Linked DNA regions of Homo sapiens. The protein of the gene in region 2 interacts with the protein of the main gene of each other region in a pairwise test. Each region holds a gene or a part of one and is shown on either strand. Other genes may lie near its edges. The genes, in order: ZNF410, PPP1R16B, SHC3, HUNK, KCTD9, IKZF3 and FLYWCH1.

Evidence for each region.
Region 1: the proteins of PPP1R16B (region 2) and ZNF410 interact in binary tests that used the Homo sapiens proteins (3 or more experiments, as listed by UniProt).
Region 3: the proteins of PPP1R16B (region 2) and SHC3 interact in binary tests that used the Homo sapiens proteins (3 or more experiments, as listed by UniProt).
Region 4: the proteins of PPP1R16B (region 2) and HUNK interact in a two-hybrid assay, tested with the Homo sapiens proteins (one large-scale study listed by BioGRID and IntAct).
Region 5: the proteins of PPP1R16B (region 2) and KCTD9 interact in binary tests that used the Homo sapiens proteins (3 or more experiments, as listed by UniProt).
Region 6: the proteins of PPP1R16B (region 2) and IKZF3 interact in binary tests that used the Homo sapiens proteins (3 or more experiments, as listed by UniProt).
Region 7: the proteins of PPP1R16B (region 2) and FLYWCH1 interact in binary tests that used the Homo sapiens proteins (3 or more experiments, as listed by UniProt).

The regions. Positions count from the first base shown.
Region 1 is NC_000014.9:73,928,106-73,932,451, reverse strand, and holds part of ZNF410 (zinc finger protein 410), read right to left. Parts: intron 950-4,346; coding exon 911-949; 3' UTR 20-910; coding exon of another isoform or gene 1-19. UniProt on the Homo sapiens protein: Transcription factor that binds to the sequence motif 5'-CATCCCATAATA-3', and is specifically required to silence expression of fetal hemoglobin in adult erythroid cells.
Region 2 is NC_000020.11:38,808,045-38,812,390, reverse strand, and holds part of PPP1R16B (protein phosphatase 1 regulatory inhibitor subunit 16B isoform 1 precursor), read right to left. Parts: intron 1-4,346. UniProt on the Homo sapiens protein: Regulator of protein phosphatase 1 (PP1) that acts as a positive regulator of pulmonary endothelial cell (EC) barrier function. Involved in the regulation of the PI3K/AKT signaling pathway, angiogenesis and endothelial cell proliferation.
Region 3 is NC_000009.12:89,038,676-89,043,021, forward strand, and holds part of SHC3 (SHC-transforming protein 3), read right to left. Parts: intron 3,510-4,346; coding exon 3,351-3,509; intron 1-3,350. UniProt on the Homo sapiens protein: Signaling adapter that couples activated growth factor receptors to signaling pathway in neurons. Involved in the signal transduction pathways of neurotrophin-activated Trk receptors in cortical neurons.
Region 4 is NC_000021.9:31,879,051-31,883,396, reverse strand, and holds part of HUNK (hormonally up-regulated neu tumor-associated kinase), read right to left. Parts: intron 1-4,346.
Region 5 is NC_000008.11:25,448,123-25,452,468, forward strand, and holds part of KCTD9 (BTB/POZ domain-containing protein KCTD9), read right to left. Parts: intron 2,360-4,346; exon of another isoform or gene 2,258-2,359; intron 1,549-2,257; exon of another isoform or gene 1,401-1,548; intron 1-1,400. UniProt on the Homo sapiens protein: Substrate-specific adapter of a BCR (BTB-CUL3-RBX1) E3 ubiquitin-protein ligase complex, which mediates the ubiquitination of target proteins, leading to their degradation by the proteasome.
Region 6 is NC_000017.11:39,762,845-39,767,190, forward strand, and holds part of IKZF3 (zinc finger protein Aiolos), read right to left. Parts: intron 3,650-4,346; coding exon 2,946-3,649; 3' UTR 1-2,945. UniProt on the Homo sapiens protein: Transcription factor that plays an important role in the regulation of lymphocyte differentiation. Plays an essential role in regulation of B-cell differentiation, proliferation and maturation to an effector state.
Region 7 is NC_000016.10:2,938,905-2,943,250, reverse strand, and holds part of FLYWCH1 (FLYWCH-type zinc finger-containing protein 1), read right to left. Parts: exon of another isoform or gene 3,271-4,346; intron 3,220-3,270; coding exon 3,159-3,219; coding exon of another isoform or gene 3,155-3,158; exon of another isoform or gene 3,090-3,154; intron 1-3,089. UniProt on the Homo sapiens protein: Transcription cofactor. Negatively regulates transcription activation by catenin beta-1 CTNNB1, perhaps acting by competing with TCF4 for CTNNB1 binding. May play a role in DNA-damage response signaling.

The DNA.
Region 1 (4,346 bases), on a different chromosome or scaffold from region 2:
AACTATCACCTGGGCTTAAGAAATGAAGATGTTCTTGTTGTTTCCTAAGACTCCTCGGTTCAGTTTTACTGGTATGGAATCCTAAGGGTAAATCAATACACTATTTTAAAGGGAAAGATTAAATTCTTAATCTCTAAGAAAACAAATTTTGTATAAAACAAGAGCCAAAGAACTGACTGGGCTGTTTTGTTTATTTAAAGGAAAACCTGAATCTCTGCATCATGTAATTTTTAACTTTAAAAAAACAAAAACATGAAATCCCTCTTAACATGCTACTGTATGTTCCATTAACGAAGAAAGCAAAGTGACCAAGTAGAAGTGTATAGGACAAGATAGTACCTCAGCCTGGGCCAAGGGGAGATTCAAGTAATTTATTTTTTTGCAGCCCAGTGGCAGAGAGTCTCTTACTCAGGTTGCTAAAGGGAGAATGTAACAAGAGAATTGACATCACTCCCTTCTTCAAAGCAACAAGGCATCTTGAAAACTCAACTTCCTGGTGAAGCTCTGTTGTTGGTAGCAGGAATTATTTCATCCATGTGAAAAGACAGCTGAGTCTGGGATGAAAACTCTTCAAAGGAAAACCTCCCCTCAACAGTCAGAATGAAGAACTTCAGCCAACACATAATCAAATTCACTTTTGGTCTATCCCAGAAATTTGCAGTGGGAAGAGAGGTAGGTACAGTTTCCCAGCCCACAGTCATTGCTTCATTCCTTGTCTGATCAGATGGTAGTTAGAAAAGAAGCTCTCCTACATCCATCTTCTATACCAGGAAAGAGGAAGAGTGGCAAAAGCAGAGTCTTGTGCCTTCAAAGATTCATTCTGGTTCTGTTGTGGGCTAAGGCATCCTGTTCCCAGTATACGCATTTTGAGATCAGATAGAGTTGCTCTTCCAGGAGTCAGCACCCACGCTCATGTCCGTCTTTCAGTTAAATCTCCTTGGTTTAGTAACTGTAAAAGATTGAAAGCAAATCTAGAATAGGTTACAGTTGAATTATAGAAAAAATAATTCATAGTAAAAAGTATTAAGAGTGGAGGATGGAGAATGCACTACAGGGGTGAATGAAGGCTATCTACTTCCAAAGCAAACACATGCACGGACTGATAGATGTCACTGTGGCCTTGGGACAGCACTTTAGCCATGTCATAAGGCTGGCATTTTAACTCTGGCAATCAAATATTCTGAGTCTATAAGCCAAACTATTGTTTGTGTAGTTACCTACTCATCAGTCAGTGACAGAGGAATCTCTAACTTACAGGGAAAACAGAAATGGTGGAACCAAAATCTTATACGTGTCAGCCAAAGGATAGGCTGAAGGCTCAAGTAGGAGAAGGAAATAGGAAGAGGAGCTGTTCCTTTATAAGTACTATATGAGAGCTGAAACCCACTCATAAAAGATCTAGGGGTTCCTTGGGCTTAAAAGAATGATAAGCCTAAGGGACTCCTGCATAATGGCAACTACCACTAACATTCTACTCTATACACAAGGCTCTATTCAAAGGAGTTTTGAAATAATGAAATTGGCTTCCATTTTAATATAAAAACAAAATGAGGCTGGGTGCAGTGGCTCACATCTGTAATCCCAGCACTTTGGGAGGCTGAGGCAGGAGAACTGCTTGAGACCAGAAATTTGAGACCCACTTGGGCAACACAGTGAGGCCCTGTCTCTACAAGAAAATTTTAAAAATTAAGCATGGTGGTACATGCTTGCAGTCCTAGCTACTTGGGAGGCTGAGGGAGGAGGATCACTTGAGCCCAGGAGTTCAAGGGTGCAGTGAGCTATGATCATGCCACTGCACTGCACTCCAGCCTGAGTGACAGACTGAGACTGTTTTCAGACACACAAAAATGAGATGGGAACAATTCAGTAAAATTCAGAACAAAAACAACTTATTAAAATCTAATCAAATAAATTCTTCAGCTTGAGATGTATTTACTTGGTGATCCTAATTTGGATGAAGGTAATTTATACAGTAGAATTTAATGATTGGGCTGGGCACCATGGCTCATGCCTATAACCCCACCACTTTGGGAGGCTGAGGGAGGAGGATTGCTTGAGGCCAGAAATTTGAGATCAGCCTGGGCAACATGGTAAGACACTGTATCCACCAAAAAAACTTTTTTTTAAGAGTTTAATTATATGGAATTTAAAGACTTTTAAACAAAATCTAAAGAAAAAATTAAACCTTAAAGAAACCACATATTCCATTTGATGCTGTGTGGCAGGAAAGTTAAGAATAGTGTGTTTTTAATGGAGGCCAAGATCCAGATCTTTGCAGTCAAACTTAGCAAAGGTACTTTATGAGAAATATTATAGAATTTGTAATTTCTATTTGTGCCTTGATTTGGAAAGCATTCTAAGAGGTAGTCAAAACTAGCTGGGAATCTCTTATACTGGTTCTTGAGTTCAAGAATGTGAACTCAATGTAAATATGGAGCCCCATTTAGAATGACCTTTAGTAAGTATGACAGCCCAAAAGCCCTGGGGTTCCCAGTTGGGCCTGTGCAATGAGTCCTCCATCTAATTCTCAGATGTGGCACAATAATGAGGGAAAATAGAGATTGTCCACCTGAACCAGAGAGGTGACTTGTAGTTTCTGATATTTTTCCCATGGTAATTTTTCTTCTTTTTTTTTTTTAAAGAGTTTGGCTCTGTCACCCAGACTGCAGTGTAGTGGCAAGATCATGGCTCACTACAGCCTCAACTTCCTGGGCCCAAGTGATCCTCTCACCTCAGCCTCCCAAGTAGCTAGGACCAGCTAATTTTATTTTATTTTTTGTAGACATGGGGTTTTCCTGTGTTGCCCAGGCTGGTCTCAAACTCCTAAGCTCAATTGATCCTCCCACCCCAGCCTCCCAAAGTGCTAGCCACCGCACCCAGCCTCTCATGAAAATTTCTGATAACAGATTTGGTTGTTCTCTGATATTCTTGATAAGCTATTTTTATTTTTAGAGCATATTTACAGGAAGTACAAGTTCATCAGTAGACTTTGATCCATACTGCTTGGTGATCTCCAAAAAAGGTGAAACGGACATGTGTTGCAAATAGCCTTCACCTTCTCTGGCACCTGAAAGTTCTTAAGGAATCAACATTCCTCACTCACTGGAGAAATAGCAAGTTATTACCTAGACCTTGGATGAGGAAGAGGCCTAAGCCTGGAACCCTGAGGGCCTCACAGCTTGAAAAAAAACTGAAGGTATTGGAGGACCCAAACTAGTGAAGAAAGAAAAGGAGGGGATAAGCAGTGGAAATGCCTGTGATACGAGGAGGAGAATAATGCTAAAAGTGAAGAAAACACAAAAGAAGTGAGGCTCAGACAGAGGGTATGTTTGTAAATATACAAAAACCCATGAGGAAAAAGTGACAGTGCAGGATTTTGAGCTACATCCAGGACAGCACTTTCCCTTTTGTGTTGTTAATATTTTTCTAAGTGTTTTGGGCTTCCATTATGAAACTGGGTTTTGTGCCTTCCTGGAGTGAAGACCATACTTCCTTTTTTTGTTTGATTTTTGGGATAGGATCTCTCCCAGGCTGGAGTGCAGTGGGACAATCATAGTTCACTGCAGCCTCGAACTCCTGGGCTCAAGTTGATCCTCCTGCCTCAGCCTCTGGAGTAGCTGGGACTACAGGTATGCACCACTATGCCTGGATAATTTTTTAAAAAACTTTTTGTAGAGACAGGATCTTGCTCTGTTGTCCAGGCTTGTCTCGAACTTCTGGCCTCAAGTGATCCTCCCACCTTAGCTTCCAAAAGTGCTGGGATTATAGACATGATCCACCACACCCAGGTCTTTCGTTTTTTAGGCAGCCTGTGTTATGCTGTCTCCCTGAGGCTGTAAGTGGGCAGCACCTATTATACATGGATGCTCTGAGGCCAATTCCAAGACTTGTGCCTAGGTTCTAGGGAACAAATGTACTATTACTGGATATTCTGAATACACAAATCTGATCACGTCATACCCTACTTCAAACCATGCAGTGGTTCTTCAGTGCCCCCAGGATAAAATCATGCCTTGTAAGACCTTTCAAGAGACTAGCTTATCTTTCCAGCTCTCAATTTTCCTCTCCAGCCCATCTCTTCATCCCATGTCCCATCACACTCAACCCTATTTACAGTTCCACAGAGGCCCTCTACTCCCTTACCTTCTACCTTTGTACACACTGCTGTCCTTCTGCCTGTTATATTCTTCCAACTCCTACTTCTCCATCAAGATGATGTCTATTCATCCCTCCCATCTCAACTTAAACTCTAAAACATATTCTCTGACTTCTCCCAAGACTGGAACGTACTACACTTAAAAACTGCCAGTTTAGGCTGGGCGCAGTGGCTCATGCCTGTAATCCCA
Region 2 (4,346 bases):
ATTCAGTGGGTTTCCTTCATTCCACTAGAAAGGGACAAAACAGGAAGCTGACAAGCAGCTGTGCCCCAGCTTGGCAAATCCCAAGGGCCCAGCTGACAGCACCTATGCTCCTCTGCCCCAGCCTACTTTCCAGATAAAGACGGGTCCTGTATCTACATGGGTAAAATGCAGTGGTGATGGCAGGAACAATTCAGATAATCTGGGCCCCCAAGCACCTGCTTGGGAAGGAAAACAGAGAGCTCGGTCTGAATGTCTTTGGCCTGAGTTACTAATTGGCTGTTCATCATTCAAGTTCATCTAAATCTCTTCTGCCTATTCAAAATGTTCCACAAGCTAAACCCCTGGGACTCCAGGGGACATAAGGCCTTCCAAGTCCTCATTCATTCCTTTAATGCATATTGATTGTCTCCTGTGTGCTGGACATCATGCTGATCACGCTGGCCAACTGGAGACACACAGCTGAATGAATTGGACACAGTCACGGACCTTATGGGGCTCATCGTCCAGTGTAGTCTTTCTTAACCTCAGCACTATTGATATTTGGGATCAGATCATTTTCTGTTGTGGGGGTGCTCTCCTGTGCACCACAGGATATTTAGCAGCACCCCTGGTGTCTACTCACTGGATGTCAGTAGCTCCTCTCCCCCACTATCCCCCGAAAAGTTGTAACAACCAAAAACGTCTTTAGACATTGCCAAATATCCCCTGGGGAGGGTCAAACTGCCCCAAGTTGAGAACCACAGGTCTAGTGGATGAAACAGAAGACTAAAAGAGTAATGCTCACATATAACCATATAATCACAATTATAAGTACTGCAGAGAAAAATCTGCTGGATATTACATCAATATTATCTACAGCTTGGAAGCCAAGCATTTTCCATATGATTACAAATCCTTATGACAATTCAGAATTGTGTTTGTGAGTTACTATTTAGCAACTTATTGAAGATGCTAAAATTAGCAACTTATTTCTTCATCTTTATTTCCAGATGAAGAAATTAAGGTTCAAGGAAGTGAAAAAATTTCCCTAGGCCCCAAAGCCAGTGGAGGCAGAGCCAGCATTTGAACCCTGGCCCCAAACTTTGCCCCCATGTAAAAGGAAATGTAAGCCTGTGTTTGGATGTCCTCTGAAACAGGGAGGGTCTGTGGTCATGTGATGCTCTGATCAGCCATCCTAAAAGATTCATTCATTCCTTCCTGGGGCCACCGTGGGGCTCAGCCACCATCTTGCCACATCAATCAAGCTGCACATTGCCTGCATCAAGGCACATCTGTGGGCGAAGGAATGCCATTCTAGATTCTGAGACATCCAAGAACACCTCCCCACAAAGCGTCTGCACCCAGGAATTTCCCCAAAGTCAGGTTACATACCCAGAGCACACCCCACTGTGACCCATCTCCAAAATGCCTACTGCCCAGCGCCCAAAGGTACACAAAGCAAAAGAGGCCAGATATTCTGCAGTCAGCCTTAGATTTACAAAGTGTGTGAAGAAGGTGGTGAAGGATAGCACATGGCAACTTTGAGATGCCCCCCAAGACGTGAGTTCCTGTCACTTACAAGCTGCATGCCCTTTAGCAAATTGCCTCACCCTCTGTGCCTCGGTTTCTCCCTCTGTGCAGTGGGGGATAAGTGCATTCATTTCAACGGATTGGTATGAGAATTCAATGGCGATGCAAGTAAAGACCTTTGACAGTGACCAGCATCCAGAAATGCACTTGGTGCTATATCATGATCAATCAGTGAGTCAGGTCATGACGCTTCCTCCACTTCTACCCTCTTCTCTCAGGTGAGAAACTGAGTCCCAGGAAGAGAGAAACAAGTGCAGAGGTGGGAAAAGCATCTCAGGAAGAGGGAGTGGACCTCTTCTTCTTCGTGCTTCCTGGGTGGAATGAAGAGGGAAGGATGGTGAATGTATGGATAGTTGAGCAGAGACCAGCCCTTCCTCCCATGCAAAAGTTAATCCTGAAGTTTCCTGGACAACCCTCACTAGAGAACCACCCTCCAAGGAAGGTGCAGAGGGACTGCCTCGGGTCAGTGAGTGTTTAATCCTTCGGGGCTCCCGGCAGGATAGCCTCTGCTACCTCCCTGGCCTTGCTTCTGCCTCCATCAAACTTTCTCATGACTCTGCTCCATCAGCAACTCCTCCCACTGCTCTCCAAAAACATCCAGCACTTTTAAGCCTCGGTGCCTCTGCACATGCTGTTCTCCCGGCTAGGGCTGCCCTACCACCTGGAAAACTGTCACTGAAGGGCTCAACATGCTCCCACAGCAACTTTTGCCCACCTGTTATTGGCAATAATAGACTAATAATAGCAACGAACATCTGTGAGCACTTATTAATATCTAGAAAGCCCAAGCTGGGTTTTTAAGTTTTTTGGTTTTGTTTTTTTTTTTTTTTTTTTTTCGAAACAAGGTCTTACTCTGTTGCCCAGGCTAGAGTGCAGAGGTGCACGCAATCATGGCTCACAGGAGCCTCCACTTCCCCCGTTCAGGTGATTCTCCCACCTCAGCCTTCCAAGTAGCTGGGACTACAGGTGCACACCACCATGCCTGGCTAATTTTTTGTATTTTTTGTAGAGACGGGGTTTTGCCATATTGCCCAGGCTAGTCTCGAACTCCTGGAGTCAATCAGTCTGCCCACCTCTGCCTCCCAAATTGCTGGGATTACAGGCATGAGCCACCGCACCTGGTCCAAGCTAGGTTTTTTATCCACAGTGTCTCACTTCTCTCCTCACATCATCATCTTAGGGAGGTGGCTTATCTGCTTGAGAGGTAAGGCCTCTGTCCATCCTCACCCAGCTACAAGGTGGCAGCTTCAAGATTCAGACCTGGGTCAGCCTGAGCCATGTGGATCTGCTCGTCACTCTCTCTTCTTGCTGTTGCAGCCTTTATCCCACAGTGTCCTCATTATCTGTCTCCAGGCCTGCCTCTCCCCATAGAGGGAGAACTCTGAGAGCTGCCTCATTCATCTTGAAATCCCTTGCTAAGCACAAGGGCTGGGATGGAATAAACGTCTTTTGAATGAATCAATGAATCCTGGAAAATGGCAGTCAGCTGAGAAAGGCTAAGTGGCTGCTCACAGACTCCCCGGGGAAAAGCTGGTGCTAGACTCAAGTTCCCAGGAGTGAGCCCCCACCCCCGCCCCAGGAGACAGGCTGAGAGGCTTTCCCCGTCCTGATGGCTACAGGCAGAAGAGACAGGGTCGCACTCACTCCCCACCCTAGCACTGGAGGAGGTGGGACCTTTGAGAGTCCAACACAAAGGAGGAAATAGTAGTGATGGTGACAATGATCATTTCCTGCATTCCTACCCACACCAGATGCTGTACTGAGCACTTTTTTTTTTCTTTTTCTTTTTGAGATGGAGTCTCGCTCTGTCACCCAGGCTGGAGTGCAGTCATGTGATCTCGGCTCATTGCAACCTCCTGCTCCCGGGTTCAAGCAATTCTCGTGCCTCAGCCTCCCAAGTAGCTAGGACTACAGGCATGCGCCACCATGCTGCACTAATTTTTGTATTTTTAGTAGAGATGGGGTTTCACCATGTTGGCCAGCTGGTCTCGAACTCCTGACGTCTAGTGATCCTCCCGCCTTGGCCTCCCAAACTGCTGGGATTACAGGTGTGAGCCACTATGCTCCACCCTAGTACTGAGCACTTTCTATGTGTTAATGGTCTCATGGAATCCTTACAATCCCACAAAGTAGGCATTACTGTGATACCTATTTTACAAATGAGAAAACCAGACTCAGAGAGATTAAGTCATGTATACAGGGTCACAGAGCTTTTAGGTATAGATCCCTAATTAAAATTAGACCTCTCTGGCTCCCTCACTCTTCATACTCGTAGCTTTCTGTAAGAGGCAGGCTTGTCCGAGCCCTTCTTGAAGCCCAATTGCTAAGATGCACTCAGGACAGTGAAGGTTTTCCTGGTCTCTGCTGGAAGAGTGCCAGTTGGGACCTCCTGGTCAACAAATGTGACAAGAGTCCTGGGTGCAGGAGGGGTGGTGGCTAGGTTGGGAGAGGGGAGGGAAAGGTTGGGGGGATGGGGTCCCAAGAGTCCAAGCACAGCACCTGAATTCAGGTATGTGCCTTCTGCCTTCTCCTAAACCAGGTTGGCTGCAGCCTCTGTTGCTACACTTGGGGCATGGAGCTGGTTTTGAGAGGAGCTGAGCCCCAGTTTTCCCATCTGCAAAATGGGAATCAGTAATGCCTACTTCACGGGGTTGTGAGGATTCTGTGAGGCCATCACACATAGGCCTAGTTTCCAAAGGGCTCAAATGGGCTCTGCAGAAAGGAGAAAGGTTCTGGCTTTAAGGAAAAACCACCTGCCTACATCAGTATCCTCTTAG
Region 3 (4,346 bases), on a different chromosome or scaffold from region 2:
TTCTGAACAAAAATCTGCCAATACCAAAGGGAAAGACAAGCTACAAAGCTTTGATTTTATGCAAAACCTGAGCCCAATCCACCAAAGGTTTATTTCAAAATCTTTGCATCAGGCAAATTTTTAAAAGAGAAAGCTGACGGGTGTTGGGTTCCTCTTGTGTGACTTGCCCCAGGCTAGGAGCTCCACCTTCCCTTAACCTTCACTTGTTTCCCTGTGGAACGAGGCTCTCACATGAGTGCCTGAGACCATACTTGGTTTCATCCCCTTCAGAGCACACTTCTCAGTGCAAGGCATGTGTGAATGGTGAGACTGCTGCTCTAACAAGAAATACCAGCAGCAAAAGAAGTAGCCAGGCATGTCTAACTAAATCCCGATGTTCGATTTTCACATAAGGTAGTGTGTATGAAAGGACTCTGAAAAATGCACAGTGCTATGCAAGTGGAAGGTAGTGCGATGGTTATTTCAGACTACGCTGTCTACCCATAAGCATACACATACATACAACATAAGCAGCACAAGAACAGGAGTGGTTCTTTCCTGAGCATAACTACACCCTCAGAGCCCAGCATTGCTCCTAGCACACAGTTCATTCAGTATAGTCAACAGATGCTGTAAAATAAGCCAAACTTGTTCGATGTTAGTACAGCGTGGGCAGAAGTGAGGTGAGTAAATGAAACTAAAATTAGCTCTTTTTGATGCTTATTAATCTTTGACAGATTTGGAGATAAAAATAAGTTAGAACCATTGGCAAAAATTATGTCTGTGGAAGTTCTTTTTCATCTGACTTTTTTCCTGATTACCTGGAATTGTCATTTGTTTTATACTGTTTCTACATCATTACCACCTTTGCTATCATCTACATCATCAACATCGTCAGCATCATCCCCAACATCGCCACCATCCCCACATTCACTTTTATTGGCACCACCACCACCATCAGCATCACCGCCATCGTCGCCATCGTCATCACCATTATCACCATCATCCCCATTGTTACCATCATAACCATCATCATCACCATCATTGTCACCACCATCACTGTCACTACCAGCAACAGCAGCAGCAGCAATAGCATCACCACCATCAACACTATCATCACTATCCCCTCACCATTATCACCACCACCATTACCATCAGCATCATCAGGATCATCACCATTATCACCATCATCCCCATTGTCATCATCATCATCATCACCATCATTGTCACCAGCATAACCATCATCATCACCATCACTGTCACCAGCAGCAACAGGAGCGGCAGCAGTAACAGCAGCAGCAGTAGCATCACCACCATCAGCACCATCAGCACTATCACCATCACCATTGCCACCACCACCACCACCACCATCGGCATCACCACCATCTCACCACCATTATCACCATCACCACCACCACCTTTGCCACCAGCACCATCATCAGCATCATCACCACCATCATCACCACCACCAGCACCATCAGCAGCAGCATCACCACCATCATCATCACCATCATCATCACTATCAACACCACCACCATCAGCAGCATCATCACCATCATCATCATCACCACCACCATCACCACCACCACCACCATCAAAATTACCATCAGCAGCAGCACCATCATCACCACCATCATCACATCAGCACCGCTATATTTAGATCTACTGGTTCAAAATAAAGAACACAGAGTGCTGGCTTTATTTAGTTCCATACTTTTCAATAGGCACCAGCCTTTCTAAGGCTCTTTTCACATCCTGTTTCCCCTCCTTAGGTTTTGAAAGCAGGAGGAGAAATTAACTGGTGGGAAAAGGGTAGCTCTGGTTCTCATTTTTTCATCCCAAACACCAGCCAATCTAACTTTCCTTAGGGTCCGTGTCCAGGAGTCATTGGTAAATTGACTATATTAAACAGTAAAAATGGTCTAACCAGACATGGAACTATTAAACTGCAGTTTGGAGGTACTATAACAACTCCAGCAAAAGCTTGGAGAGCCACCACTGTGCTTTGCATCTTGAAAAAGTGGCTTCACATTTCTCAAGCTGTTTTCACATTTTTAAAAATAAAGGCACTGGCGGGACTGAATTAGGTGATCTAGCATTGAAGGTGGCTTCAAGCATTAAGATTCTACAGTTCTTGCTTAGATTATTTTTGTTAAGTCAAAATGGGGGTCCAGTGTGTCTGGGAAGTCAAATTTGCTGGAGAGAAACAGTGTTGTTTTCATGAGGCTGCCTAATTATAAAGGCACTTAACACTGTCCTCACTCATACAAAATACCACAAATCACAGATATTGGACCAGCAAGGCTGCCTTTCACAAATGATAAAGTTAGTTAACTTCTAGGATTCTTCGTTTCCTTCTCTGTAAAATAAAGATAACAGTAGTTATCGTAATACCTACCTGTAAAAATTTAAAAATAAGTGTTTAGCACATGGTAGAAAATCATTCAGAACTAGTCTCCATTCCCTCCCTCTTCAGCCTATAAAATTCTCGAGGAATATGAAAAGCAAATTTAGCTCTTGTGAGCTTGTGATGCTCTTTCAAAATTTTTTAACAAAAATTTTCACTTTCATTAATCAGTTCATGAACGATTTAATTTCCTCAGTCTATATGACAAACAGAAAGTCTGTGGTACACATCCCACTATAATGCTATCTGCAATAGATTCCTATTACTCTCCTTATCCTGTTTAGTTTTCATAACTGAGGAGCATGTACCACTACCTGGTAATAGATACCTCCACGAGGTAGAGACTTTGCTGGTTTTGTTTTCCTGTATATCTCCATCAAGTAGAATAGTATTTGACAAATGGTAAGTGTTCAGTAAATATTTGGAGTGAGGTAAAAGGTGAGCAAGAGAGAAAAAAGGAGAGAAAAAAATGAGAGCACAAGTGGGAGGAGAGGAGAAAGAGAGAGAAAACCCTCATAAGAGAGAGGTGTGTTGCAATTTCTTGCCTATATGTTAAATGTTGGTCTGCTTCATAGACCTAGAGATCCGTGGAAACACGGGCCATGCCATTTCATCTTTGCATCCTTAGCAACTAATACAGTAGCTGGCACATAATAGCCAATTACTATTTAAATGAATAAATAAACATTTGTGTATGTATATTGTCTCAATACATTTGCAGATCTTCAAGAGGAACGTCAATTCCAAAAAGAGGGGGAAATTGCTCTGTCTCTTGACTACAGAGAGGGCTATAATCCTAAAGCCTTAAACAAACCCAATCATCACCCAGAAAAGTACAGCTAATCATCACCATTAACCAAAACCCTACTATCAGAAAATTCAGTAATTACACAGATTTCAAATAAAAGGCAGGATAAAAAGCAACCTCAAAAGAAAAGAAAACCAGAGACAAACAGAAACCCACTCATGTCAAAGAGGTCTTTCCTTGGGCTGCTCTCAGCACTGCTGACCGCAGCCGGCCAGGCCTGTGGTGGGATCTGCTGAGTGTTGACGTAGGTGGGTGCTTCTCCCGTGGGGGCCACGTGCAGTTTCCCTTCTGGCGTGCTGTAGATGTCCGAGGACCCTGCAACAAGAAAGTGAGCCCCTTTTCTTTTACGATGGTGACACTATTCAAGCCACCCAGCCTTTCACAAAGAAGCTCTTCTGCCTGCAAATGGGAAACCTCCTCCTTCGGATTCCTATGGGTGATATTCTCCTCTTCTGAGCTTGTCACCACACACTGCTGTGACCCAGCTAGGATGTTTTCCAGTCCTTCATATCAGCATGGGGTCTGCCAGCCAATGTCAGGGTGGACACCTTGATGGCTCCACTGTGATGGCCTTAGCAAAAATTTTGGCCCTTGCTGCCCCAAGACCGCAGGAGCCTGGCAGGCAGAACATGCCTGACCTCCTCTCCTTGACAAATGCTCCAAGATCAAATAACTGAGCAGAAGGACCACAAGCCTTATATTAATTGCTCTTGTTTTCTTTTTAAATATAAGCAAATGCTTTATAAATTAACTTCATTCAAGCAATACAATAGAAGCTCTGTACCTCCTAAGGAACTGAGAGAGACTCCTTCCTTATAAAATAGGGCTGCAGTTACTGCCCCTGGGTCTGTGAAGGAAGCCCAGGGTGGGTGTGCAAGTGAAGAGCCCCCTCTGCTGAGGCAGTGATGCTGCCTCGATGTGACTTCACAGCTAGCCAATGGGTGTGCTGAGGCTAGGCCAAGGCTGTTCTGTCACCGAGACCTAGTGTGAAAGACCTAGTGCCTTGACAGGACTTCACAGCTAGCCAGTGGGTGTGCTGAGGCTGGGCCCGGGCTGTTCTGTCACCCAGACCCTGGGTGAAAGTGACACCCAGACCTAGTTGCCGGAGAACGCCTGTTCAGATCCTTCTCGGAGTCTTTTTGTGTGTGCGCC
Region 4 (4,346 bases), on a different chromosome or scaffold from region 2:
AAAATATACTCAATTCCCATGTAAATAAGAGAAACAATAAATAAGACAAGATACCATGTTTAATACACTCGATTGGCAAAGATCAAAATGAGTACCCTGTTGGCTGACATGTGGAAAAGCAAACACTCCCATACCAGATGGGTGTGGTTATAAGTTGGGAACCCTTATAAATTATAAGGGTTATCAATGTGATTATAAATTGCCAACCTCTATGGCAGGCAATTTGGCAATACTTATCAACAGTTAAAATAGACATACCTTTTGGCCTAAGACTAGGAATTTACCCCTCAGATACACTGAGGGGTCACATTTACAAAGTGACAAATGGTCATGGATATTTACTGAAGTATGGTTTGAGAATAACAAAAAAAAAAAAATTATGTACTCCCTAAATGTCCATCAACAAGGGATGGTTAAGTCAACATGATACTTCCACACAATGACTACTATGCAATAACTAATTAACATAAAGAGTGAGGCAATTCTGTAGTAGTCATGGGGAAGAATGCTCAAGACATATTGCTAAGTGAAAAAGCAAGATAATGAACAGCATGTACAGTTTAAAAATACATCTGCCCTGGTGGGTGGGAGGGATGGATGAAGAGAAGCTGGTTCATGGGTACAAACATACATAGATAGAAGAACTAAATTCTAATGTCTGTTAGGGTGACTATACTTAGTAGCAATACTTTGTATATTTCAAGGTAACTAGAACAGAGGACTTGATATAATACCAACCCGTGGAAATGAATACTTAGGTGATGGACACGCCGATACTCTGGCTTGATCATTACACACTCCATGCATGGAACACTCACATGTACCCCATAAATATGTAAAATATTATGTATCAATAAAGAAGAAAAATCTGCCCCTAACTACGCATTTACAAATATGTATGTGGGTCTCTATGCATATAGGGTATCTCTGGAGGGATACACAAGGACTAGAAGGAGGAGTGACCTCTCACGAGAAGATCCAGGAACTGAAGAGCCCAGATAAGAAGCAGTTACCTCTCACTGCAAACCCTCTCAGAACCTTTGAATTTCAGACCATGTGTCTGTATTACCAATTCCAAAACTTAACCAAATGCATCTTGAAAACACAAAGATGATTAAAAACCAAAAAGAACCCAGTGATTAGAAGTTGCATAGCTAGGGCACAGTGGCCACCGTAAGAGTGCTAAGAGGATGTTAACAGATGGCTCTACCCTGAGTAGTTTTTTTTGTCCATGAGAATGTCCCAAACTGTTACTCTACTCATCAAAAATCCAAATTCCCACAACTCCTTCAACAACTTTTCCCACCACTCACGAGTGATGGGGGAGGGGGGGTCTCTTCCCAGGAAAGTGCCACCGTCTCTGAAGTAGGCATGCTGGCCCACAACTTGGCCCAACACTCAGTTGCCCCAGAGTTCTCAGGAAAAAACCCATAGAGCATACATATAAAGTGAGCTTTCAATCTTGTAAGTACTGAGAAACACAACAGAGCCCTGATGATTCTAACCTAAGAGAAATGTGAGGCCAGAAAATCCCCCAGCGTGTGGCACATAGAATCTGCTAATGAGATGCCACGCCGGCTGCTCCCTCATTGCAGGGAGAGAGACCACAGTCGAGCAGCAAGGTAGGGCAGGCTGAAGAGAAGCTGGTTCATGGGTACAAACATACATAGATAGAAGGACTAAATGCTAATGTTTGCTACGGGGACTATATTTAGCAGCAATAATTTGTATATTTCTTTGTTGTTGTTGTTGTTGTTGTTGCTGCTGCTGTTGTTATGGAGTTTTTGCTCTTGTTACCCAGGCTGGAGTGCAGTGGCACAATCTCGGCTCACTGCAACCTCCACCTCCTTGGTTCAAGCGACTCTCCTGCCTCAGCCTCCCGAGTAGCTGGGATTACAGGAACACACACTTGGCTAATTTTTTTGTATTTTTAGTAGAGACAGGGTTTCACCATGTTGGCCAGGCTGGTCTCAAACTCCTGACCTCAGGTGATCTGCCTCCCTCGGCCTCCCAAAGTGCTGGGATTACACGCGTGAGCCACCACGCCTGGCCATACTTTGTATATTTCAAGGTAACGAGATGAGAGGACTTGATACCAACACATGGAAATGATGACCACTCATATCCAAAATGCGCATGGAAAAGATGCCCACGTTGTCTACGGTCCATATGGTATGGACTCAGATGAAAAGCCCTGGACTCTGACCCTGTCTCTTTCAGTAAACAGCAAATGCTGGGCTGCACCCCCAGATTCCCCGTCAGTGCTGAAGAACTGACTGCCTCAGCTGCAGGCTATCAGCTGTGAGCTCTCCCCAGGAACCGCCCTCAGCAACTGTCCCGTACGAGGCCATGCCCCTTGCCTGGGCAGCCCCCATCAAGGACTGGCCGATGCGGAAATATAAATCCCAGTCCTCTCAACCCAAGTTGGTCAGCTCTGAAGGGCCAGCTCAGCTCCAGCACTCACCACGGCATGGGCAGGGGCTTTGGCTGAGAGCGGTATTGGAGCCCAGCTTCTCCCTCTGCCCAGTGCTGCTTTGCCCCTTCCCTTGCAGAGGTCAGTTCTGAGAGTAATCCCTAAAAGCACATTCATCTCCTTCCCAAGATCCGCTTGCCACAACCCAATACTGACAGTCTAAAAAGGTGCTGGAGCTTGAACTATGCTCCCCCAAAAGATACCTTCAAGTCCCGTTGGTACCTGTGGATATGATCTTCTTTGAAAATAGGGACTTTGTAGATGTCATCGAGTTAAAATGAGGCAACACTGGATTAGGGTAGACCTACATCCCATGACTGGTGTCCTTATAAAGAGACATAGGAAAAGATTAAGAGACAGAAGAGACACTCAGAGGGAGGAACACTGTGTGAAGACAGACGCAGAGACAGAGCGCTGCAGTCATAAGCCAGAAAATGCCAAAGAGTGCTGGCCACCACCGGAAGCTAGTAAGAGGCAAGGAAGGATTCTCCCTGTGGCTGCAGAGGGAGCATGGCCCTGCCAACACCTTGGTTTTGGATCCTAGCCTCCAGAACTGTGACAGAATAAATTTCTGTTGTTGAAGCCACACAGTGTGTGGTAATTTGTTAGAACCATCCTAGCAAACTCATAGAGAATGTCAGAGAGAAGATCTACTCAGGGCACCCTTCTACGTAATCAAGGCAGGCAAGAACACCAGCAAGCTGGCTGTTACCCCCTCCACCAGGGCTGCTGCAGGCATCTAACAAGAATGTGCACGGGAGGGGCACCCTGAAAAAAACCGTAAAACACTGTAGCACTGGGCTGGTGCTGGTGATGGAGGAGAGGGAACAGCTGTCTCGAATTCACAGAGGCATCCCCCTCCTCGGGGACTATTCAGTCCCTGTGTTTCTAGCTCTTTCCTGCTGGTCATCGTACCACCCAGTGGCACCTCCTATCAGAAAGCGTGAAATTCAATTCAGGTCAGTACTTAGACCAGGGCTGAGTAGAGAAAGAAGTTTCACCCATCAGCTAACATAAGGCCTGGGGATTATCTACGGGTTTCAATTAGCCAAGAGAGCAGGTCTCTCCGTTACCATAAATAATCGACAGAGGGAATATATGTCCCAAGGCAAATGATAACCCTGTGCCCAAGCCTCCTTCCCATGGAGAACACCCCAACCTGTCCCTCTCTTCGGGGGCACATGGCTGCCACTCCCCACCCCTTCTGGGCAGATAAACCCTGGGACAGATGATTGCCGCGCTGACCTCCAATAGCTGGCAGCATGCAGAATTCTATAGTCTCACAGACCTGAGTCGGATTGGTATGCACGGGTAGCTATAGCCGTGACTCAACACCTGCAGAGAAAATGTAGGGTTGTACTCCTCTCCGTGGGCACCGTTTCTGCACTGTTGCGCTGACTCAAAGCACCCTTTGAAGTCCGTGGGACCTGTATCAATGAACACTAGGAACCAGGCCCTACGTGCCAATTTCCATCATTCACAAGTACTTCAAAAAGATGAGGCAGGGCAGGAAGTTCAAAAGAATCCGCCTGCAACTGCAGAATGCAATCCTCGAAATTACAGGCACTGCCTTGTCACACAGGGCTCACCAAGCAGGTGCTTTGCAAATGCCTCCTTCTTGCCAAGAAGTCCCTGCCAAGGATTAATAGGAATTTCCAGTTCTCTAAGCATTTCTTGTTCCTCAGAGCGATTACCCCTAAACTTCTAGCACTTCAAAAATACAGGATTTAGCACCTGTTTGTTTCAGAAATACTTGCTAAAAACAGATCTGCCAAAAGGCCACCTCTAAAATTAGTCATATTTCTTGCTCTGCAAAACATAGTAAATCGTATTTTTAGTAACTCCTTCACTCCAGGTATCTGGCACTGTCATG
Region 5 (4,346 bases), on a different chromosome or scaffold from region 2:
GAAAAAAGGAAAGGAAAAAGAAAAGAGAAAAGGAAAGGAAAGGAAAGAATAAAGAAAAAGGAAAGGAAAGCAAAGCGAGAAGAGAAGAGACATGAATTCTGACACATGCTGCAACATGGATGAACCTTTTTGACAGTATGCTAAATGAAATAAGCCAGTCACAAAAGGATAAATATTCTATGATACCACTCACATGAAAGTACCCAACACAGGCAAATTCATAGAGAAAGAAAGCAGAATAAAGGTTACCAAGGCATAGATGGGAATGGAGACTTATTTCTTAATGGTTACAATTTCTGTTTGGGATGATGACCAAGTACTGGAAATAAACCGTGGTGATGGTTACACACATTGTGAATGTAAACAATGTCAATGAATTACACATTTAAAAAATGGTTAAAATAATAAATTTTGTTCCATCTTTTATCACAATAAAAAAAATACTGCAAAGCACTTGGCACAGTGTCCTACACACAGCAGGCTTGCCATAAATAATTAAAGCCTGAGTAGGGCTGGGCGCGGTGGCTCACGCCTGTAAAATCTGCACTATGGGAGGCTGAGGCGGATGGATTGCTTAAGCTCAGGAGTTCGAGACCAGCTTGGGCAACACAGTGAAACCCCATCTCTACTAAAATACAAAAAATTAGCCGGGCGTGGTGGCGTGTGCCTGTAGTCCCAGCTACTTGGGAGGCTGAGGCAGGAGAATTGCTTCAACCCGGGAGGCAGAGGTTGCAGTTAGCTGAGATCACACCACCACACTCCAGCCTGGGCGACAAAGTGAGACTCCTTCTCCAAGAAAAAAAAAAAGAAAAAAAAGCCTGACTAAAACATGTCCCCCATATTTCCTATGATTGTTCACCTCTGCAACACAGTGAGGTATTCTGTAATTGCATTATACACATTCCTGGGACAAAGCGAAGCGAAATACAGTACCTAGGGCATTGCACACGGCAAAGCTGGGGTTGTGTTAAGGCAAAGAGCATGAAGAGAGTAAAGACAGAGAAGAGAGAAGCAAACATGCAAAGGAGCAAGAGATTGACCAAAGCAGATGCAAAACAACTCCTGCAGTCAGAAGGTGCTGTGAAAAGAGGGTAAGAAGCACAAGCACCTCTTTCCCAATTCAATGTTCTTGGCATAGTTGCCATCATACAAAGAATTTTCTAAATCTTTCTTTTCCCTCTTATTTACCTCTGGCTCTTACATCTCAGTATGGCTTTCTTTTGCCTGATATCCCCTCCTTGCCCTAACATCAACTTTCTCTCTCAGCATCTCTTTCACTGTTCTCTCTTGGCCATACCAAAAAATAGATGCAAGTTGAATGCACCTGCCTGTATTATGCTTAATACTTAATGTAATATTATAGCTTAAGATCTTATATGACTTATTCAAAATACACTAACTTGAATTGTCGTCTACTTCCATATGATTGACTTGGTTTTTCTGTGGGTCTATTGTCTTCCGATGAAAATAAAGGCCACCTGCCATGTTTTAAAGCTGTGCTGTCCAGTGTGGAAGCCACTAGCTTCATGAGTCTATTTAAATTTTAATCTATTAAAATTAAAAGTTAAAATGCAGTTCAGTCACACTAGCCACATTTCAAGTGCTCAACTGCCACACTGGCTAATTGTTACCATATTGAATAGCACAAATTTCCATCATCTCAGTAGTTCTATTAGACAGTGCCATTTTAAAGAGCAGAAAAAAAAAAATGAAGAAAAAAAAACACAACTATTTTAATTCTATTAGGCTTTCCCATGACATAGGAACCCAAAGTAACAAACTGATGAAATACAACTCAAGACCTGTTTGTTGTTTTATTTAGAGGGTTGGGATGTTGCCATCTTCTGTTTCTTCCCCACTGAAGTCAAATGTGACCAGATGATAGAAAAAAACCACACATACTGCTTGGCAAGGACTATTTTCAAGGCAATCAAAGTACAACAGGTATTTCCTTGTAGGCTGTAAAACTACTAAGGAGCACAGTCTAGGTATAAATTGAATTCAACTTTTATTGCCACTTAAATCAATCCTAATAAGGTATCAAAAACAATTTACCGTATCACTAAATATTTTCTAATCTGGCTGTCTGCCTGGATCCTAAAGGTCCAATAAAAAAAATTAATTTGCAAAAAGTTGTTATGAATTCTGTGAATAGAGGTGACCAATTATCCCTTGGTAAAGCTGATAAGCAGCACTAAAGAAGTACATTCCTGAGCTGTTCTACTAATAACCGCCATAGGTTCAAATGGTACATTACCTGGCTTACAGCAGGTCTTTGACAAATATTTCTTGAATGTTGAGTGTTGAAGTAGGACACACCTTTTTTGTGTGACAGTCATATTCATTTAAGTCTCTTACACTGTCATTAGGGTAAAAAAATACACAGTATAAATGCAATTCTAAAGCAGTCTGGGCATGGTGGCTCAAGCCTGTAATGCCGGCACTTTTTGGGAGGCCAAGGTGGGTGGATCACCTGAGGTCAGGAGTTCAAGACCAGCCTGGCCAACATGGTAAAACCGTGCCACCACGCCCAGCTAATTTTTGTATTTTTAGTAGAGACGGGGTTTCACCATGTTGGCCAGGAGGGTGTCAATCTCTTGACCTCGTGATCCAACCGCCTCAGCCTCCCAAGTGCTGGGATTACAGGCATGAGCCACCACACCCTGCTAAGTTTTTTGCTTTATTTTGTTTGTTTTCCAAATTTGTTACAATGAACCTATATTACTTTTGTAATAAGGGGGGAAGTTTTAATTTATTTTAAGGTCTCCATAGCTCCAGATACTAGTTCTATAAATAAAATTATTTTAGCAGTTTGCAATCAGGCAGTTAACAATTTCCTTTAAGTGAAATAACCAAAGGGTGGTCAATTAGAGAAAACAGAATTAAAATTAATACGAAGAATCTTATAGTTCTAGAAATTTGAAAATTTCCCTTAAGTTGGGCCAATATACTTGTTTTCACTTGGAGGGCTATTCTTGACGTTTGTTTTCCAACTAATCATTCGCACATACTAACAATACCATACAAATAAAAAGGAGTTATGTTGCAATACTAATATTCAAATATGCAAAAACTCTGTATTTTAAACTAATTAGAAACCAGGTTTTAAAATATATATATCAACATAAATTTGTCATACATATGGAAAAGATGATTAAGTTACGGAGAAAGTTGCAAACAGACTGGCACATGCATTCTTCTTTATATAACTCTTTTGAGAAAGAGGAGCAATAAAAATCTTGTATATCATGGACATAAGCTCCAGTTAGTATATACTAAGATTGTTTTTGTCCTCATACTGAGCCAAATAAATCATAAAATGATAGTGCTTACAAAGGTCATTTACTTTGTATGTGTTATCTCCACCATGTGGCCTGATGTTTCCATGTCACTGGGATTATCTACCTTAACAACTTAGGCCCTAAGAATAGAAGCATTTTACATTTATTGAGAAGCATGTCTATTAAAGTTCATGATGTCTGTATTATACTACTTTTCAGAGTCAATTATTTTTAAATTTCAGATCCCATGACAAGTGAAAGCTGCCTATGAGTTGGAGAGTAAATGGAACACCATGCCTAGTACGATTGGCTAGTTTTAATTTACCTTTAAACACCATTTTCAAATTGTAACCTGTATTATTTAAATTTAAAAATTAAAACCTGCACATGCATGTAAAATATTTTTTTCTTTTATACCCACAAGATTTATTACATAATACACAATAAATACACAAGTATTTGTGTATTTGAATTCAACTTTTATTGCCACTTTAATCAATCCTAATAAAGTATCAAAAACAATTTACCATATCACTAAATATTTTCTAATCTGGCTGTCTGCCTGGATCCTAAAGGTCCAATAAAAAAATTAATTTGCAAAAAGTTGTTATGATAAATACACAAGTATTTATTGTGCATTATGTAATATACAATACACATAAATTGTTGAATTTATGCAGGCTGATTTACCCAACAAAACCACTAATCACCACTAGTAACTAAATACAGAACTCAATTTTCTCTACCTATACTTTTAGTCAAATACATTTTAAATATTTACATGATCTTATTCTTTAAAAGATGAGATAATTTAAAAAAAAGATGAGATAATTAACTCTAAGGTGAAAAAAGAAAATTTTAAAATGGAAAATACTGGTAATATCAAGTGTTGGAGTGGATGTGGACCAATAGGGAAGATTTATGCAATGGTGGTGGGAATATAAATTACTGCAATGACTTTGAAAAACAATCTGGCATTATTTTGCAAAACTGAATATTTACATATTCTAACACCCAATAATTACAACTATGTGTCTATACCTTAGAGTGGTGGTTCTCAAATGT
Region 6 (4,346 bases), on a different chromosome or scaffold from region 2:
CCACTGCACTCCAGCCTGGGCAACAGAGCGAGAGACTGTCTCAAAACAAAAGAAAACAAAAAAAGTTGGTCTCCTCTGCAAAGACTTGAACACTAATCTGGTGGAAAGGCTTCCTTTCCCTCGTTTTCTCTTCTACTAATCCCTGCTTCCAAATTCTCTTTCTCTTGTCCCTTGAAGAACCAACAGGATGTGCGATATTTCAAGAACGTAATGAGCAACTCCTCTTTCACAAAGGGAATAAGCAATCTGGCATAGCTTGGAGTCTAGTATTACGGAAATACAGTGATATACTGAAGACTACACACCAAAATACATCCATTCCTTTAGCTGAAGTCTCAAACATGTTGGGACTGTTGCCATGGAATTTCATAAAACCTTTTTTCCTGAGACAGACGCCATGCCACAAAGAAGGATAAGCCATTTGTGCAGTCTGAGGTGGAACATTTTAATTACTGGCAGCACATAGACGAGTTGAGTTGGAGCCGAATGCATAAGCCCCTTAGAAATAAAACACTAATCTACCAGGAATTTGGGATTCTTGGCTCTGGTAGAAATGTTACAAATTAAGCTGACTCTTAATTTGTAAATAGGCTCCATGAAGTTGTCCCTGGAAGCAGAATTTATTTTCCCTAACATAATTTCTTAAAAAGTAAAAAAAAAAAGAAGGCTTTGGCAAACAGCTGCATGTGCCAATTTGTGTGTATGCTTTGTGGCAAGATCAAAATACCTTTCTGTTTTTTGTTCCTCTCCACCACCTTCTTCACATTCACAACTCAGTGGTTAAAGGAAAAACTTAACACACCATTTTCATACCAAAGGAATGTGAAACATGTATTCATATAAATACTCTTCTGCTTAATATCCATACATTAGGAGGTTTAAAAAATACCTTGTGGTTACTGCATAATCACATATGAATTAAAGCTAGAAGGGACCTAAGAGAACATTGAAATCTAATTCCTATTTTATGGATGAGGAAACTGAGTTTTTTTTGTTTTTGTTTGTTTGTTTTTGTTTTGTTTTGTTTGAGACAGGGTCTCACTCTGTCGCCCAGACTGGAGTGCAGTAGTGTGATCTCCACTCACCGCAACCTCAACCTCCCAGGCTTAAGCGATTTTTCTGCCTCAGCCTCCGGAGTAGCTGGGATTACAGGCATGTGCCACTACTGCCCAGCTAATTTTTGTATTTTTAGTAGAGACAGGGTTTCACCATGTGGGTCAGGCTGGTCTCGAACTCCTGACCTCAAATGATGCGCCTGCCTCGGCTTCCCAAAGTGTTGGGATTACAGGTGTGAGCCACCGAGCCTGGCCGGAAACTGAGTTTTAAGAGTTAAATAAGGCTGGGTGTGGTGGCTCACACCTGTAATCCCAGCACTTTAGGAGGCTGAGGCGGGCTGATTGCTTGAGCCCAGGAGTTCAAGACCAGCATGGGCAACATAGTGAGACCCCTATCTCTACAAAAAGAACAAAATGTAGCCAGACATGGTGGTGTGCACTTGTTGTCCCAGTACTCAAGAGGCTGAGGTGGGAGGATCACCTGAGCCTGGGGAGGTCGAGGCTGCACTGAGCCATGATTGCACCACTGCACTCCAGCCTGGGCAACAGAGTGAGATCCTGTCTCAAAAAAAAAAAAAAAAAAAAAGTTAAACGATTTCTCAAAGTCACATAGCTAATTAGCCAGCATTTTGTGACCTCCTATTCCAGTGCTAATTTTACCATGATAACAGCACTCCTCCTGATAGTATGTACATATTATGAGTGACAAGGATGACTTATACATCTGCAGAACCGTGATCAGACTTTCAGGAATTTTCATGGAATACAGCAGTTCCATTTAAATGGGAAAAAAAGGGCCGAAGCCTGCCTGATCAAGGAGAACCTCTCAATAGAGGTGTCCCTCCTCACCCCATTCCGGAGCTCAACTCCGATCTAAACACACATGCCATCTATCTCCAATTCCTCTCCTGTGGGGAGGGGGAGGCTGAGCCATACTTTTTGGACTTTTTTTGTGGAAAATATCATTGGCAAATTTGCTTTGGGTCTGTATCACCAATTCTCCATGAACTCTTTCAAGAAGTTTTAGGTAGCTGTTTTTTGTTTGTTTGTTTTCTGTTGGTGCTGCCAAACAATTTCCCCCTTTATACCCTTGCTCTGCCAACCTTGACCAAAGGAAAGCGATGTCATCATCCACAGTGGATAAATTTCTGGAGTTTCGATGATGGTCTATATTTAAAACCATGAGTTCTTCTGGCATAGATTTTCTTCTATAGACAACTGGTTTAGCCCAAAGCAGCTCAGCTTTTCACTGGAGATGGGAAGGTAAAGGACAGAAGCAGAAGTGCCATCAGATGACATTTTTTAAAAATGTTGTGATAGGAAATGGATCTGATGCTTGGAGAATGGGGTCTTCAGTTACTCGTAACAGATACTTATTTTATGGCTGTTCTTTTACTTACTCTTAGACTGTCATTTAGATTAGGGAGATTAGATCTTAACCCTTCAGCCTGTGAAGGGCAGAAGGGTGAGGCTTCCCAGCAAGGTCAGCTGGTCAGCTCTTCCTCTTTGTGGATTTGCATGTATGACTGAAAGGCTTTTCCACGTGTGGTTGATATATCTCAGAAAGAATGTTTCATATAGCACATCTCCGGGACCACTCATTCCACTGCTGTAGAAGATAATGACCAAATACCTTTTTGGCTTTTAAATTCCATAAAATTCAAGTCCCTGATGGGAAAACAAAGGTTTCACAAAAGTAATAATATGCTAGACCTGCGAATAATTTCTGAAGGAAGACAGTGTTTCCCTGGCTACCCCTGTGAACACAGCTAAAAATGGTATGAAAAGAAGTTTGGAACTGAGTATGTTTTGAGAGCAATCTGTTAGGCGAGGTCATTGGTTTTTAGAAACGATGCTGAATACATAGGAGCAATCCCTGAGACCAGATATTCACTTCAGCAGGGCTCTGTGTTCTCCTCTGGCTATGTGAGACGAGAACTCATACCGATCATGGCTTCGATATCCACACATGTTACACTCGAAAGGGTCACGGAAGCCGTGGCAGCCCATGTGAATCGTGAACATCACATAGTCCAGGAAGAGGACGCGGCAGTGGTCACACCGATACACATCCATCACCTCCCCTTCCTTGTTGATCACTTTGACGGAGTCTCTTGGGCAGATGGGCGGGGGCTTGAGGAGTTCGTAAGAGCGGGGAACCTCCTTCAGAAGTGGCATCCCATTGCGGGCCCGAGACAGGACCATGTGATTTTGCTGATAGATGTGATTCTGGCGTTCTTCATGGTTGCTGTCAGTGTCCGTGGAGTCGTGGCCACTATTGTTGGGAGAGAGGCCTCTCTCAGAAGGCACGCTCTTCTCTGGAAGGTGGATGCTTTTCTTTTCCAGCTCTTGAGGGGCACCGTTTGACATCTCAGCCCGGGTGAGGGCTATGGGATACATGCTGCTGATAACTGGAACCATCTCCGAGGTGGGAGCAGGCGGTGTCTGGACCAAGGGGCGCAGGGCTTCGGCGCCAAGATAGCTGATGGCGTTATTGATGGCTTGGTCCATCATGCGGGTCTGTATGAGCTCACTCTCTTTCTCATACATGTAACTTGAATTATAGTTGACATCAAAGCAGTGGCGCTTCTCACCTGGAACAAGTGACAGAAAGGGTTACAAAGGGAACACTGCCAAGGCAGAGAGTTTGTAAATATTTTCTAGAGACCTCAAAAAGGGAGGAGAGTTAAGTTGCCTGCTGCTCAAGAAGACCAAGCCTGGCAGAATGGTTTCCCATGGTGCTGTCTCAGGGGACACTGGTCGGCAGCAACGTGTTTGGATGGTTAAAATAAAGCCAGCAGGCAGAAGAGAGGGGCAGAGATGTGGTTCAGTTGAGGCCACATGGTAAGGTATGCCCACTGTGCATGTTAGAGGAGAGCCCTCAAGAAAGGAGGGAAAGAAGCAGGACACTAGGATGGGGCTAGAGGGACAAGGGAGCCACCAGCCCACAGGAGCCTGGGACTTCTGCTATAGTTCATGATCTCTTAAGACACAGTCGGCTCCCAACTCTTATTTTGCTTTTGCTTGTTATTTTCTGCTTGCAATATTAGGTAGCCAGGGGGACAGAAGTGCTGCAAAGAGTGGGGACACTCGGTGCCTCACCTCGGCAGCTTTTTAAATAGCTACAGAGATAGAGAAAATAGCCCCCCAGACTCCAACTGGCTACTCCCCAAACTCACCCGTCCTGGCTGACTGAGACTGAAGTGAAAGAGCTTCAAATGTAGAAAGTTTGAGAAAAGTTTTCTTGAGAAGAGATCATGGTCTTTGTCCCTTTCCTAACGTGTGTTTCTC
Region 7 (4,346 bases), on a different chromosome or scaffold from region 2:
CATGTGCAAAGTGTTCTCTACCAGGGAAGCCTGCCTGAGCCCAGGAGTCCAGGGTTTTCACTGGGGGTTGCTCATGTAGGTACGTTGTGCCTGCGTGACTGAATATGGTCACCGAAATGCCAGGCTCAGAAGAAAAGCAAGTGTTCAGCAAATATCACATGATTTGTATAGAAAAGAGTGAGCAGTTGTTATTTGGGGATAGTATTGTATCCACATAGGAGCTCTTTACCAGTCAAGTTCCCAGATGCCAGCTGGGCGTGGTGGCTCATGCCTGTAATCCCAGCACTTTAGGAGTCCGAGGCGGGTGGATCACTTGAGGTCGGGAGTTCGTGACCAGCCTAGCCAACATAGCGAAACCCCGTCTCCACTAAAAATACAAAAATTAGCTGAGCGTGGTGGTGCGCACTTCTAATCCCAGCTACCTGGGATCACTCACAGTGATCTTGCAGTGAGCCAAGATCACACCACTGCACTCCAGCCTGGGCGACAGAGTGAGACTCCGTCTCAAAAAAAAAAAAAAAAAAAAAAAAGTTCCCAGATGCCAGCCAAGGGTGAACCTTGCACACAGGCTGTTCTTAGGGCAGCAGTCTCAGGCCTGCTGTGTTACATTAATTGGTTTTGCATGTTGATGCATTCCTGGGATAAATCTTACTTGGTCATGGTATATAATCCTTTTTTATGTTGCTGGATTCTGTTTGCTGGTATTCTACGTTCCTAAGAAATACTGGTCTGTAGTTTTCTCTTTGTGATTCCTTTGCTTGGTTTTGATATCAGGGTGATACTGGTCTTAGAGAATGAGCTGGGGCCAAGCATTGCGGCTCATGCTTGTAATGCCAGCACTTTGGGAGGCCAAGGCAGGTGGACTGATTGAGCCCAGGAGTTGGAGACCAGCCTGGACAACATGGGAAAACCCCGTTTCTACTAAAAATAGAAAAATTAGCCAGGCGTGGTGGTGCGTGCATGTAGTCCCAGCTACTCAGGAGGGTGAGGTTCAAGTGAGCTGAGATGGCACCACTGCACTCCAGCCTGGGTGTCAGAATGAGACTCTGCCAGAATGAGGTCCATAGTAAGGTCTCATCTTTATTCCTGATTTTAGTATTTTCAGTATTCTTGCTTTTCAATTTTTTTGATCTGTAGATAGAGCTAAATATTTGTCAATTTTATTGATCCTTATACAGAACCAACTTTTGGTTTCATTTATTATTTATTTCCTTCCTTCTGCTTCAGTTTTTTTTTTTTTTTTTTTTTTTTTTTTGAGATGAGTCTTGCTCTGTCGCCCAGGCTGGAGTGCAGTGGCGCAATCTCGACTCACTGCAACCTCCACCTCCTGGGTTCAAGCAATTCTCCTGCTACAGGCTCCCACCACCACGCCTGGCTAATTTTTCTATCTTTAGTAGAGATGGGGTTTCACCATGTTGGTCAGGCTGGTCTTGAACCCGTGGTCTCGTGATCTACCTCCCTCGGTCTCCCAGTGTGCTGGGATTACAGGTGTGAGCCACCACGCCCAGACTTTTAGTTCTTTTTTTTTTAGTTTTTCTATTTTTTGTGGAGATGAGGTCTTGCCCATGCTAGTATGGAACTCCTGGGCTCAAGCGATCCTCCCACCCTAGCCACCCAAAATGCTAGGATTACAGGTGTGAGCCACCATGCTTGGCCCTGTTTATTCATTTAGAGATGGGATCTTGCTCTGTCTCCCAGGCTGGAGTGCAGTGGTACAATCATGCTTCACTGCAGCCTCAATCTCCCAGGTTCAAGCGATACTACCAGCACATGCTACCATGACTGGCTGAGTTTTTGGCAGAGACGAGGTCTCACCATGTTGCCCAGGCTTCTTCCTTTTTAATAGAAGTGTTTTTAGCTATAGATTTCCCTCTAAGCACGGCTTTCAGTGCATCCCATAAGTTTTATTTCAAAGTATTTTATAATTATCTTCTTTGGCTCATTGTTTTGTTTGTTTTAAATTACACACAGGGTCATGCTCTGTTGCCCCAACTGGTTTCAAACTCCTGGGCTCAAGTGATCCTCCTGCCTCTGCCTCCCAGAGTGTTGAGATTACAGGCGTGAGCCACCATGCCCAGTCTGACTCACTGGTTTCTTATAAGTGTGTTCTTTAATTTCTACGTATTTCTGAGTTTCCCAAATTTCTCTGTTTTTGATTTGGTTTTTGTTTGTCACCTAGGCTGGAGTGCAGTGGCACAATCTTGGCTCACTGCAACCTCTGCCTCCCGAATAGCTTGGATTACATGCATGTACCACCATGCCTGACTAATTTTTGTATTTTTAGTAGAGATGGGGTTTCACCATGTTGGCCAGGCTGGTCTCGAACTCCTGACCTCAAATGATCTGCCTGCCTTGGCCTCCCAAAGTGCTGGAATTACAAATGATCTGCCTGCCTTGGCCTCCCAAAGTGCTGGAATTACAGGTATGAGCCACTGTATCCAGCCGTGAAAGGACTGAAATGATACAAAGTATGTTCTTTGACCATAGTGGGATGTAATTACAAACCAATAACAAGGCTGGGCACAGTGGCTCTTGCCTGTAATCCCAGCACTCGGGAGACCCGAGACAGGAGGATCATTTGAGGTCAGAAGTTTGAGACTCAGCCTGGCCACCATGATAAAACCCTATCTCTACTGCAAATACAAAAATCAGCTCGGTGTGGTGGTACATGCCTGTAATCCCAGCTACTCAGGGGGCTGAGACAGGAGAATTGCTTGAACCCGGAAGGTAGAGTTTGCAGTGAGCTGAGATCATGCCGCTGTACTCCAGCCTGGGCCACACACAGACTCCATCTCAAAAAATAAAATAATGGACTCTTGCTTTATGGCCTGGCTGTGGTTGAGAAGAACCTGAATTCTGCTGCTGGCAGCTTCCCTCTTGTTCTCTCTCTGTCCCATGGCTGTCATGTGAAGGATGCTCAAGTGGGCCCAAGGAGGGGTCCCTATGGTGAGGAGCAGGGCCTCCAGCCTCACTTGGGCCTTCAGATGACTGCCACCCTGGCTGACAAATTCTCTTCAACCTCAGGAGTCAGAACCACCCAGCCCAACCACTCCCATAATGTTGACCCACAAAAGCTGAGACAGCAAATATTTGTTGTTTTAAGCCCACTACGTTTTGTTGTAATTGGTCATGCACCATTAGATAACAAATACAATTACCCATAAATCTGCTGGCTTTCAGGAGAACACGTCTTGAAGCACAGCTGAACTTGAATCTTTTCTGTGGAAAAATAATTGAAAATATGAATTAATAATTCTTCTCTTGTTGAAGCTGACAGAACCAAGGACACACACCTTGTTAACGACGCCCTCAAGGCTGTGAGGAGAAAGACAACCGGGTGAAGCAACGCTGGGAATTCAACGCATCAATTACCTTCCCAGGTAACAGCAGCTACTTGAGCTCCTAAGAGTTGACCTTCAGCTGCTGTCATGGAAAATAGTGGGGGTCAACTAGACATCAAAGATGAAAGGCCAGGCCTCCAGCACAACTTTCTCTGTAAGCTCGATAGTGGCTTTCTCAAAGAAATCCTTTTCTCAAAAAAATTTCTTGTAAAGACAGGGTCTTGTTCTGTCACCCAGGCTGGACTGCAGTGCATGGCTCACTGCAGCCTCAACCTCCCGGGCTAGAGTGATCCTCCCCTTTTCTGAGGAGCTCAGACCACAAGCGTGCACCACTGTGCCCAGCTGATTTATAAACTTTTTTTTTAGAGACAGGGTTTCACCATGTTGGCCAGGCTGTTTTCTTTCAAGGTTTCACCATGTTGGCCAGGCTGTTTTCTTTTCTTCTCTTTTTTTGAGATGGAGTTTCACTCTTGTTGCCCAGGCTGGAGGGCAGTGGCGCGATCTTGGCTCACTGCAACCTCCGCCTCCCAGGTTCAAGTGATTCTCCTGCCTCCCAAGCAGCTGGGATTACAGCGTAGCTGGGATTACAGGCATGCGTCACCATGTCCAGCTAATTTTGTATTTTTAGTAGAGACGGGGTTTCTCCATGTTGATCAGGATGGTCTCGAACTCCTGACCTCAGGTGATCCGCCTGCCTCAGCCTCCCAAAGTGCTGGGATTACAGGCGTGAGCCACTGTGCCTGGCCAACTTGGATTTGTTACTGTTATACAGGACATGGCCCTTAATATTCACATGAATGACAGTGAGACACACAATGCTTTCTAAAGATTGGTTTTGGCCGGGTGTGGTGGTGCACACCTGTAATCCCAGTTACTCGGGAGGCTGAGGCAGGAGAATCACTTGAACCCAGGAGGCAGAGGTTGCAGTGAGCCAAGATGGCTCCATTGCACTCCAGCCTGGGCAACAAGAGCAAAACTCTGACTCAAGAAAAAAAAAAGGTTGGG